Regions from separate parts of the Homo sapiens genome. Here all the other regions are linked to region 2. The links come from fine-mapping of genetic effects on gene expression. A gene starts in region 2. Each other region holds a variant in brackets. All regions are shown on one strand. Distances are from middle to middle.

Region 1 (4,207 bases), 70 kb before region 2:
GAGAGAGGTGTGACGGGTAGGGAAAGTGATGGACAGGGAGGGGCACACAACTGCTCTTTGTTTTCAGGTTCAGAGCACCTGGGGAGGGAGTCTCAGCTGGTGGGGGCTTCCTCTGTGCAGATGAGGAAGCAGAATAGCTGGAAGGACTTCCTGGACTTGGAACCTGGCGGCGGAGGAAGGCCCTCCCGAATCCACGGGATCCAACCCCGGCACCTCACTGTACTGATGGGGAAGCTCAGCACTGGGTAATGGGGGTGGGGGGCAGTCAAAAACAGGGCATTTGGTGGCACAACTGGGACTGAAAGACAGTCCAGGCTCTTAACTCAAGGCTCTCTCCTCCCACTCTCCCATGGAGATGTAGGCGGCTGTCCCTGGCTTGTGTCGGTAAGTCTTTCCTCTCTCTCTGTGTCGCCCTGAGAAGCATTCCCTTCCACGCATCGCTGTCAAGAGAAGCAGCAGCATGTAGCAGGTACACAGATCGCAGTTGCTTGCAGATGTCATAGAAGGTCCAGGCAATGTGTATGCAACACCGGTTGCTTCCCTTTCTAAGTAACAGACACAGATTCAGTCTCTCTGAAGCAGAAAGGGAGTTTATTGGCAGGCTATCGGGATCTCAGAGAATCAGAGGAGCCTGCAGGGATAGGCTTGAAAAGCAGATGGGGCTGGACACAGTGGCTCATGCCTGTAATCCCAGAACTTTGGGAGCCCGAGCTGAGCAGATCACTTAAGGTCAGGAGTTCGAGACCAGCCTGGCCAACATGGTGAAACCCCATCTTTACTAAAAAATAAAATAAAATAAAATACAAAAATTAGCTGGGTGTGATGGTGCATGCCTTTAGCCCCAGCTACTCGGGAGACTGAGGCCAGACAATCGCTTGAACCTGGGCGGCAGAGGTTGCAGTGAGCAGAGATCACGCCACTGCACTCCAGCCTGGACAACAGAGCAAGACTCTGTCTCAAAAACGAAAAAAAAGAAAAGCAGATGGGAACTGAGGCTGCTGGAGAAGGCCAAGAACTTTCTAGAAAGCACAGCAGTCACCTTTTAGCAGAAGGACTTTAGTCTGATGGCCACTCTCTTCGCTGTACACACCAGCCCCTGAATGAGTGGGTTATAAAGAAACATCAGTTTTGAATCACTCATTCCAGCCAAGCATGATTAGCCAAGCCTGGGACATGCATGCCCCAGCTTCCAGGTGTGGGAGACAAAGATTGAAGGGTCCTATCTTGGGAGGCAGGACCCTGTATCCACATAACCATATTCCAAGGGCATAGAGAGTGCAATAGACTTCTGAGGGTTGGACAATTCTCATGAGGGATTGCATCATGAATTCCAAATGACTTCAACAGCAGGGGCTGTGTCATCACACCTACCCAGCAATCCCCCCAGAGCTCACCCCGAGACCCCAGCCAAAGTTAAGGGTTCCAGAAACCTTCAGAAGGGTGCAGCTGCCTTTGTTTAGGGGTGTGTGAGCGAGGGACTTTTCGGCCACCTGTGATGGGCACTCCTCCCGGCATGAGGACGTGAGAGCATCCTCTGCAGGAAACTGCACAGAAGGGGCTGGGGGGTCTCCCAGATTGATCCCTCCCCGCCTCCCAGGGAGGAAGAGGCTGCTGGTCCTCCCGTAGTGCTTTCCTGTTGGGGCTGCTGCAGGCTGTGTGCTTTCCAATGTTTCGACATTGCAATATTTCATACTTGGGAAGTAAGAACAACCATGATTTTCAGAGTTCTATTTCTTGACATTCTATTTCAAGCTGTAGAAAGTAATA[C/A]TTAACAAAAGCCTTCTGAGCCTAAGATGCAGTGAGGCTCCACTTGGGGAAGTGGATTTCTGCTCCCCTCCGTACACAGAGGGGAAGAGTTATTGGACATTCCTGGGGTGGGGGGATGAGGTTTTCTGTTTTGGTTTGTTTGGGGTTTTTTTCATGCATCAAAAGAGAGCACCAGACTGGGAATCAGAGGACCGTAGGCCTAGTCCCAGTTTTGCTTCTGATTTCCTGTGAGACCTGTTTCCACTCTGGGTTTTTGCTCTCATTCACAGAAAAAGGGGTAGTAAAGCCTCTGCCTGCCTCGGAGATCGGAAAGTGTATTGTGACAAGGACACTGCTAGGTACATGAACTGTTCTAGATAGTTGTTTTTGTTTTTGTTGTTGTTGTTTGTTTGTTTTTTTTTGAGATGGAGTCTCGCTCTGTCGCCCCGGCTGGAGCACAGTGGCGCGATCTCGGCTCACTTCAACCTCCGCCTCCTGGGTTCAAGTCATTCTCCTGCCTCAGCCTCCCGAGTAGCTGGGACTACAGGCACGCGCCACCATGCCTGGCAAATTTTTGTATTTTTAGTAGAGACGGGGTTTCACCATGTTGGCCAGGCTGGTCTCGAGCTCCTGACCTCGTGATCCACCCGCCTCGGCCTCCCAAAGTGCTGGGATTACAGGCGTGAGCCACCTCGCCCGGCCCCTATGTGTGTGTCTTTATTGAAGAAAGGGTCCACAGCATTGTCCAGGTTTATAAAGGGGTCCTGACCCTTCAAAATAGCAAGAACTCCAGTTTTAGTCAATTCCTTTGTTCCGATGGGAAACAGGCCCCCTAAGTCAGTGTGAGGAGCCTGGGGCTTTCATGCCTAAAGCTGTGAACAATTATCTGAGTTAATTAAAAGCTTTGGCGGCCAAGCCAGCAGCCCCCGCCCTCATGCCCAGGCGGCCTCTGTCACACATGCTGCAGGTCACAAGTGATGCATGCCAGTCCGAGGCCCCAGCCCGGAATGGGGAGCCCACTACGTGCCCCTCCAGAGGCTACACCACGATCAACATGGAGAGAAAGAGCCCAGGCCCCCAGGCCCTGCCCAGATTGTCCTCGCAAAGACCCAGCCACCCTGTTGGCCCCGCGTCTGTTTCAAATCCCATGCCTGGGATTTCTTTTTGACATTAAAGTAAATGTTGGCCAGAGAGCCACCTACAAGGGTGACGAAGGCTGCCGGCTTCTCATTGGAGGGCTGGGAGGAGACTCTGCAGGTCTCTGAGGACTGCCAAGACTCCTTCATCACACTGAGCAGATATAAAATCCATTACCAAGGGCTAATAAATGCGGGGAGGCCGGCAGAGGACATGCCCGCCTTGCTGGGAGGGCACACACTCAGGCCAAGAACAGCAGGCTCTCCAGGCACAGCCACTCGCCCTCCGATATTTGCCCCTCCTGCACGCACCTCTCTCGGAGTCCCATTGTTCTCCATTCAATCATTTGGGCACCAATTCTGTTTCTCTTTGACTATAAAAGCCCATGCCTGCAGACCTCTCTACACATTTATTGTGCGGCTGGAATTTATGACGGATTGGATTTCAGAGGAGGGATTGATTAAATACAGATGGAGCACTTGACAAGGGCCTGGGGGTCCCGGTAGACTCCCCCATTTAGAAACAGAATAAAGATTAGAAAGCGTGAGCAAGGGCAATCCGAGGTAAGTCTTGCTTTCAAAGGGAGGGAGGGAGGACAGGATGGGGGAAGCTGTCTATTCCTACTCAACAGCATCTTCTTGAAGCTGGATGAAATTCTTTGCCCGGTGGAGTAATGAGCTGTTGAGGCCACTCCTCAGTGCCTCCAATGCATTCAGCCTCCTGGGGTACAGGGTGCTCTCCTGCTCACCTGCGTAGGGCTGAGATGGCAGTGTGGACCTCTCGGCTCTGGTAAATACCGCCAGCACCTTTGCTGTCTAATCGCACTGTGTTCACACCTATGTCCCCCACTTTCAAGACTTCACGCTTTGGAAAAGCGTCAACTATCTTTCAAGGCCTAATTCAAAGCCACCTCCTCCATGAAGACCATCAAAACCACAACCCTCACTCAGTAACAGTGAATCGCCCCTTGCAATGTACAACCACAGTACGCTAGCTTCCCTCTCCTCCTGCTTTGTTTTTATTCTGCTTTGAAAAGGTCTGTGTCTAAACTCTCTTTGTGTTTCTTTTTTCTTTTTTTCTTTTTCTTTTTTCTTTTTTTTTTTTTTTTTTTTTGAGACAGAGTCTCACTCTGTCACACAGGCTGGAGTGCAGTGGCATGATCTAGACTCACTGCAAGCTCCGCCTCCCAGATTCAAGTGATTCTCCTGCCTCAGTCTCCTGAGTAGCTGGGACTACAGGCGTGCACCACCATGCCAGGCTAATTTTTGTATTTTTAGTAGAGACGGGGTTTCACCATGTTGGCCAGGCTGGTCTCGAACTCCTG
Region 2 (4,207 bases):
CCTGACACACAGGACCAGACGCCCACACAGCAGCAGGCACTCTGGCAGGCACCTTTCCAGAGCCGGGCACACCCATTGCCATGAGGACCCCTGCTGCGGCACACCCCTGCCGGGGCACATCTGCTGCCCTGGGTATGCCCACCGTCTCAGACACCCCCACAGCCTGCCTCCTCCCACACTGACATGCAACATCTCCACAGCCAGCCTCCTGATCCACTGACCCAGGGACCCCTAAAGCTGGAGGCCCCAGACTCTCTGGCTCCCCCACAGCCTGCCTCCTTTCCCACGGGCTCAGAACATTCCCACTACAGGTCTCCTCTCCAAGCCCAGGCACTGCCTCGGCTGGGGGCCCCCCAAGAGCTTGCTGTCCGTCCCACAGGCCCAGGCCCCCGCTGTGGCTCAGCTCTTCTCCCAGGGCTCCAGGTACCACCACAGCCTGGGGCACCCTTACCATCTGTCCCGCTCCCCACAGCCCTGGGACACTCACACAGCCCGTGTCCTTCCCCAAGGCCCTGGGTACCCCTGTAGCCTGTTGTATCCCCCACAGGCCTGGGGCACCCCCAGAACCTGCTGCCTGCTCCCCAGGACATGATGACTCTGCAGTCTGCGCAGCTCCCCGTGACCCTGGATCACCCCCAGAGCCTGTCTCCACCCACACAGGCTGTCCCCTTTCCCTGAACCCTGGGTCACCTCCACATCTAGTTTCCTCTTCAGCAGCACAGGGCACCCCAACAGAGTATCCTGTGCCCCACGGGCCGGGCATACCCACAGAGTCTGTCTCCTCCACAGCCTGTCTCCTGTAACACACACCTGCGGCACCCACAGAAGTAGGCTCCTCCTCCACAGCATCGGACACCCCCACAGCCTGTCCCCTCCCCCATACGCCAGGGGTGGCCCCACAGACTGCTTCATGTGTCAGAGCCCCAGGAATCTGCGGGGACTGTCCTCTCCCCCACAGACCTGCAGCACCGCCACAGCCGAGCTCTCCCTCCATGGCTCTGGGCGCTCCCACAGCCCCAGTCCACCCCACGGTCCCAGGCTCGCCCATAGTCTGTTCTTTTTCACAAGGGCCTGAGACAAACCCATAGCCTATCTCCTCCCCAGTCTCAGGAACCCCCACAGCTTCTCCCCTCCACAGGTGCGGGGCCATTTCAGAACTTGACGCCAAAGCCCCAGGCACACTCGCAGGAGGCACCCTCCCAGCCTGTCCCTGTCCACAGAAGCCTAAGGCTCTCTCGTAAGCTGCCCCTAAGCCCAGAGCTGTGGGCCCTGAGGGGGCCCGAGGGATCCCCCTTGCCTGTTCCTTCACCCAGGGCCCTGTAAGACCGCCGCGGCTTGTCTCTACCCAGGAAGCTCGGCCAGGAACACCCCTTTCGACAGGTCCCTCTCCTGCAGGCACGGGATGGAGCTCGACTCTACTTCCTTCCCCACATCCCGAGGCGGCCCTCATAGCCTGCACCTTCAGCCACAGGTGCAGAATGCTCTCATGGCCCAGAGATCCCGGGCGACCTTTTCTCTCGCAGCCCCGGGGACTTCTATCTTCGGTCTCCTCCTCCCCAGACCCGGTCACCCACACAGCCCCGGCAAGCCCCACCACCTCGGGCTCCCCCACAGCCCCGTTCACCCACACAGCCCCAGGGTCCCTTGCAGCCTCGATGGAGCCTGGGGTCCCAGGAGCTCCCAAAGCCTCATTCGCCCCGGCGGCGTCGGCTGTCTCCGCCGCTTGTCTCGTCCCCCATGGCCGCTGACGGCCCTGTGGCCTTTCTGCACTCACACAGCGCGTCTCCCACTCCGAGGGCTTCGCCCGGCGCCTTGCTCCACGGCCTCGGGACGTCCCTGCGCCCCGTCTCTTCCCCCACGGCCGCCGAACCCCCCGCCCCGACCTGCTGGGCCCCACGCAGCGACCCGGCATCTTAGCCGCCTGCTCTCCCCGGCGCAGCCTGGGCAAGGCCCCACGGCGAGTCTCCCGGCTCATAGCTCCAGGGCAGTTCCCTTCCTCCCTACCGCGGCCCTGGGGGATGTCTTAGCACCTCGCTCCCTAAGCTGCTCCACACACGCACTCACACACTCCGCTCCGGCCTTGCAGCCTTTCTCCCTCCGAGCCCCTCACCCATCCCACCCCCGCCCAGTCTCGGGAACCCGCCCCCAGTCCCAGGCCCCCGTAAAGCCTAGACGGCAGAAAAGGTAACTGGGGGGACAAAGCAACAAAGGCTTTCCGAGTCAGATCTCCTCTCCCCCAAGTCCATGACTCTATGCGGCTTCCCAGAATCCCCCCCAGCCCCGGCCCGAGCCCACCTGGCCTAGGGTGAGGCGCGGCTACTGGGAGGCGGGCAACGGGGGCCCCCAACAAGGCCGCGCTTCCGGCCGCCTGCCCAGTCGCCATAGCAACAGGCGCAGGGCGGCTTGGGAGCCTTTGAGGCCCTGAACTATTTAAGGATCCAGGTGTTGCAAGGCGGTAAGTTTTGCAGCCAGTGTCCATGAGGTCGGGGCTGGGACTAGATTAGGGTAGATCTAAGCCTGGGCTTGGGAGTGCAGCTAGCGCAGAAAGATCTGAGGAACTAGAGCAAAAAGCCATGCGGATGGATTGTGGTCGTCAGAGGCTCCCGTAGTCTTTAGCGGCGCTGGCTTCCGCAGGCTCCGCCCTCTCTTGCCCACCCGGAAACAGCCTCGCCCCGCCTACGCGGGACCCAACCGCGGCGACCGGACGTGCACTCCTCCAGTAGCGGCTGCACGTCGTGCCAATGGCCCGCTATGAGGAGGTGAGCGTGTCCGGCTTCGAGGAGTTCCACCGGGCCGTGGAACAGCACAATGGCAAGACCATTTTCGCCTACTTTACGGGTTCTAAGGACGCCGGGGGGAAAAGCTGGTGCCCCGACTGCGTGCAGGGTGAGGCCGGGATTCGGGGGCTGCTGTCCAATGGAAATGGCAGGAAGGTCGAGCCTACGGCCAGAAGGGGGGCTTAGCGGAGGCAGAGTCTTGGTTCCAGACATCCGCGGAGCAATCTGAGCTGTCCCCAAGTCTCCTTCTATTAAATCCTACCCCGCCCTGCCAAGAGCGCTCTTCCTTTTACCACCTTACCCGGATGATCTTGGAATCTAGTTCCTTAAAACTTCTCACTCCCCCAGTACCATTAGTGTCTTACAGGATACGTGAGTTGGTCAGCAAATACATGTGCTTTCCATTGTTACGGGCGCGGTGGTGCAGGGGCAAATCGGGACTGGGATTTGGTCCTTACCCTTAACGTGGCTCTAAGACCAGAAGGGAACACCTGACTTGTGTTGACCTCTTCAGTTAGCTGCAGGTTAAAGTCTGAGTGCTTACCAAGACTGGGGGAAGGGGGAAAGAACACAGTTTATACGTGCCTGATTGTAGAGTTGACGTGCGATTATTTTATCTCAACTTTTTTTAAAGCTGAACCAGTCGTACGAGAGGGGCTGAAGCACATTAGTGAAGGATGTGTGTTCATCTACTGCCAAGTAGGAGAAAAGCCTTAGTAAGTGGCAATGTATAATCTACCTCGCAGACGTGCACAAATTGCATACTTAGGCGGGAAGGGCCTCAGGGACTTACTTACCCAGTTTGTCTTACAAGGTAATGTCTGACAAGTTAAACAATTAGAAGCTATTAAATACAAATTTAAAATGCCCACCTGAATTAAGTAAGGGTAATTCAACGAATTTGGTCTGGTGTAAGCCCAGAACTTAGCTGGCTTTACTTTTATATCTTAGTCACACTTTGAAACTTTGCACAGGGTAATTAGTAGATTAAGCCATAGTCCGCAAGGTTTTTTAAGTGTTTGCAAGAACAGTGATTACTAAAAAATTAAATGTAGGACTATGTCAAATATTAAGCAAACTGTAATAAACCAAGTAAATTTTTTTCATGATCACTTTTTCTTTTCGAATAGTTGGAAAGATCCAAATAATGACTTCAGAAAAAACTTGAAAGTAACAGCAGTGCCTACACTACTTAAGTATGGAACAGTAAGTATCTTTAAATATGCTGGGCCTGTAATTCACTGTCAGAACTCTTTTAACTTGCTGTGGATCCAGATTTGAAAAGATCTTGACATTTCATCTCAATTCCATTGTTGTTCAGAGTGCTGCTGAAAGTCCATTCCTATGGCCAATCCCAATAAACTGATAATGTAAATATCTAGCTATTAGGTCTTTTTCATGTTAAGTCACTCTTAAAAAACCAGAAAGTA
Region 3 (4,000 bases), 30 kb before region 2:
GCCTAACAGCACTGTTGAGCCTAGAAGCCTCACCCACCCTCCTCTACCCACCACACATGCACTCTAAAAGACAGTCCATTGTATATTTGGTTTGTAATACAAACTTCAACCACTGAGCTTATCAACTGAATGTAAATCTCCATATTAATACTTGTATACAAAAATACAGAAAACAGAATAGAGTAATAAAAACAAAAAAAGCACATTATGAAGTCAGAAGACCTGATTTTAGGTCTGGCTGTTACATGAATAAGACATTAAATTCTCTAAACATTGTTTCCTTAACTTGAAAATGAGAGTGGATGGATGAGCACGGCCATTCCTTCACACTCATTCGGAATCTTAGGGGGCTTCTCTTCCACCAAGCTGCTCACCCTGACTTCTGATGGCTCCAAAGACAGAACCCTGTAGTCACCTATCTTCTCCCTTCTCCCCTGACATGACTGCTTTTTACTTCTTTCCTTTTTCTGTTCCACCTCCTGGTCCTTTCCATTGTGTTTTCAAAAACTACTGCCTCACGGCAAACGAGCTCCCCTTTATCTTCAACCGATTCCCCTAAAGATTATTTCCACCTAACTGGACCCTGCTCCTCTTCTCTCTAGCCCTGTGAAATGGCAGCTTCTCATTCTAATGTGCTATGAGTGAGGATGACAAGACAGTAACATCAACATTATCCTAATTGCTCCCTGCAGCTAAGACAGTGTTGGTGAGATCTATATAGTTTTATAGTTCATAATTATCTTGACTTAGAGTTAGAATTATTTTAAAATATTTATTTACTCAGCAAAGATTTACTGAATGCCTACTATGTGACTAGCACTGGACATTCAAATATAAAAAAGAATATAAAAAAGACACAGTCCCTGGCCTCAAGTTACTAGAATCTATTGGCAGAAGAGACAAGTGAAGGGAAGCCCCCCATCTTCCATTCAATCACACATGTCCCGGTGTTGGGGTGGCCCATGGAAGGGTGTTCCAACCACAGTCAGGCAGAAGAAGGAACCAACAAGCTTCCAGACAAAGACTTCTCATGTATGACTCACCCAAAAAAGGATTTCTGCTTAATGGAAAAAATTAAGGCTACTACTTAATTTGCTCCTTATAAGCTACAGGTCACCTTTGATATATGGAGGAAAAAGAGCATCACATACACAAACGGTCCCTTGAGTTTTCACATACCATTTAGGAGACGCTGGTGGGGATGTGGGGTTTGGGGGTATCCATGGTGCCTTGCGGTCTTTCACAGGCTGCCGGTTCATTTTTAATCTGGATGAAACTGTTGTCTGCTGCACTCTGCTTTTACTGTGAGGTTGGCTTTGTCTACCTCTTTCAGCTTTGCGGAGTCCCTGTGAGAGATAAGTAAGAATTATAAGGCCACACAAATACCAAAGAAACTATGGTTTAACCTCTGACTCACTGAAGCTCCAAGTTCTCCATGTTATTCATGCATCCATTCGGTAAAACCTGAGTAGAAAGCACTGTGGCAGAAATTTGGGGGAGGGTGTAAATTTCATTGAAACAACCATGGTAGGGGCGGGGGGTGGAGGGTGTAGAATTTAAATCCCTGGCTCTGCCTGACACCTTTAAACATATAAACAATATATAAAATATATTTTTATTTATTCACAATTTGTTTCCTAATTAAACAAAAAAAATTTCATACCATATTGTTAAATTATTTTTCTTTTTTCTTTTCTTTCTCTTTTTTTTTTTTTTTTTTTTAAGAGACAGGGTCTTGCTCTGTTGCCTAGGCTGGAGTGCAGAGGTATGATCATAGCTCACTGCAGCCTCAAACTCCTGGGCTCAAGCGATTCTCCTGCCTTAGCCTCCTGAATAGCTGGGATCACAAGTGTTAGATACCATGCCTGGCTAATTTTTTATTTTTTGTAGAGCCAGGGTCTCACTGTGTTGTCCAGGCTGGTCTTGAACTCCTGGGCTCAAGTAATGAGTAAAACATTTTTCATAAAAATACTTAACCTCTCTGGGCCTTAGGTCTAAATAGAATGAATCT[A/G]GCGATTTAAAAAATGTTATCGAGAATGCGGGCTGTCTGTGGAGAGGCGCACCCATCTGAATTCCTACAGGTTCAATCTTGACATCTCAATGATTCATGGTCGCCCCCTGCCATAGAAGTTTGGGAAGAAACAGACTTGATCCTAATCCATTATCTGTCAATAACTTGGGATAACTGCTAACTCTCCTTTTCTGGAGGCCACCTGAAAATAAACAGATTTGCTAAAGAAGCCTTTGGGCAAGACCACCAAATGTCACTAATACAATAAGGGTATTCGACCAGGAGGTGGTCTTTTGGCCAGTTTTCCACTGATAGGGCCATAAGTAAGTTTTAAACAGAAGCTTAAAATATAATGTAGTTTCAAATCAAGTTGTACCCTGCTGGCTCCCAAAGCCATATTAGAAAGCACTCACCCTAGGATGCCCTTTTAATATGCAGTAATTATTATTGATCGATATTTATCTTTAGCAGGAACTAATTTTTTTTTTTCTTTAAGACAGGGTCTTACTCTGTTGCCCAGGCTGGAGTACAGTGGATCGATCACAGCTCACTGCAGCTTCAAACTCCTGGGATCAAGTGATCTTCCTGCCTCAGGCTCCCAAATAGCTGGGACTACAAGCATGAGTTACCACATCTGGCTAATTTTGTTTTTAGTAGAGATGGGGTCTCACTATGTTGCCCAGGCTGGTCTTAAACTCCTGGCCTCAAGCAATCCTCTCGCTTCCCAAATTGCTGGGATTATAGGCCTGAGACACCACACCCGGCAGGAACCAAATCTTAATCCCCTCAAGTCTCACACTTCCAAATCAGAAGCAGAAAAAAAACTGAATTTTAAAATCTCCTGCCCAATTAGGATATTGGTATCATATTAGTTAGGATCTTACCAAACCAGGAATAGAAAGAATTCTCTATTCTAGTAACAATATTAAAAATTGTTATTTTTTTGTTAAAATATATAAACAACTTAAATAGCCAGACTCAAGGACTGCAGCATCCAATTGCCTGAGAACTGGCTCCACCATATACCAGTTTATGTGACCTTGACAATGTCAGATTAACACAAATGGGCCAAAAGAGAGGAATGATTTCATACTTGCTGTCTTGCTGGCGCCAGAGTATCTTTCTTCCTAAACGGCACATTCTCAGTCACAGGCTTCTTTTTCCCTGCTTTTGTTTTTGCCACGGCTAACACCTCGTCTTTGAAGCTTGCACTTTGGTCTAGAATAAATGGTCCTTCTTCCAGAACTATATCCGCATCTAATACATCAAGCTCACTCTGCAACCTCTGGGTCTCCGGAAGCTCCGTATCGGGCTGATACTTATCTACATGGAAATTTTTGAAAAACAAACTGAGGAAAATGCTATTCAAATCAAATTGCTGAGAATGATTATCTACACACAGATAGGCTCCAAATACCTATCCTAGCCCTGCTGAGAAGCAGATGTTTTGTTGTCAACATTGTTCCTCCTCCTATGAATATTACTGCAGGTTTATAAGCAGAAACCTAGGTGTCACGGTTGACTCCCTGAATCTTCGCTATCATATTTACTCATTTACCTGGTCCCTTTGATCCTAATTTTAAAATAGCTCTTACATTTATCTCTGCCCTTCCTTCCCTTTTGCTATTACCCAAGGTCAGGCTTGCAGTATCCTGTGACTGGAATAACAGTGTCTCCTAACTGATCTCCTGTTTATCTTCACACTGTCTTCTGGCTACCAAAATTGTGCTTCTCAAATGTAATATTTAAATGTCACTTCTGGCCAGGGGCGGTGGCTCACGCCTGAAATCCCAGCACTTTGGAAGGCTGAGGCAGGTGGATCACCTGAGGTCAGGAGTTCGAGGCCAGCCTGGCCAACATGGTGAAACCCCATCTCTACTAAAACTACAAAAATTAGCCAGACATGGTGGCAGCCACCTATAATCCCAGCTACTCAGGAGGCTGAGGCAGGAGAATCGTTTGAACTCAGGAGACAGAGGTTGCAGTGAG

Direction of the effects. Alleles are on the strand shown, and positions count from the first base shown. SD is a standard deviation of normalised expression in the study named. Not every link is listed here.
For the expression in atrial appendage of the gene that starts at base 2,370 in region 2, A is the low allele of the variant in region 1 and C is the other (small effect, 0.21 SD a copy in GTEx).

The links. PIP is the estimated chance that this variant, and not a neighbour inherited with it, causes the effect.
Region 1: its variant is the best candidate, but not a certain one, in a credible set for the expression of KIAA0753 in atrial appendage (GTEx, PIP 0.57).
Region 3: its variant is the best candidate, but not a certain one, in a credible set for the expression of KIAA0753 in esophagus muscle (GTEx, PIP 0.83).

The regions. Positions count from the first base shown.
Region 1 is chr17:6,568,266-6,572,472 of GRCh38, forward strand. No RefSeq gene overlaps it. Among named protein-coding and RNA genes, the nearest start is that of PITPNM3, 14 kb to the left of the region's middle. The variant C/A (reference allele first, on the strand shown) is at 1,768.
Region 2 is chr17:6,638,342-6,642,548 of GRCh38, forward strand. KIAA0753 reads right to left here and starts at 2,370. Exons shown (of 19, transcript NM_014804.3): 1 at 2,296-2,370. TXNDC17 (thioredoxin domain containing 17) reads left to right here and starts at 2,719. Exons shown (of 4, transcript NM_032731.4): 1 at 2,719-2,886; 2 at 3,412-3,493; 3 at 3,908-3,983. The coding sequence starts at 2,742. LOC122526780 reads right to left here and starts at 1,975. Exons shown (of 1, transcript NM_001396008.1): 1 at 1-1,975. The coding sequence starts at 1,975. RefSeq lists enhancers at 929-998, 1,897-2,778, 2,909-3,178, 3,379-3,438.
Region 3 is chr17:6,608,815-6,612,814 of GRCh38, forward strand. KIAA0753 reads right to left here. Exons shown (of 19, transcript NM_014804.3): 8 at 3,105-3,334; 9 at 1,180-1,346. Among named protein-coding and RNA genes, the nearest start is that of KIAA0753, 30 kb to the right of the region's middle. The variant A/G (reference allele first, on the strand shown) is at 2,012.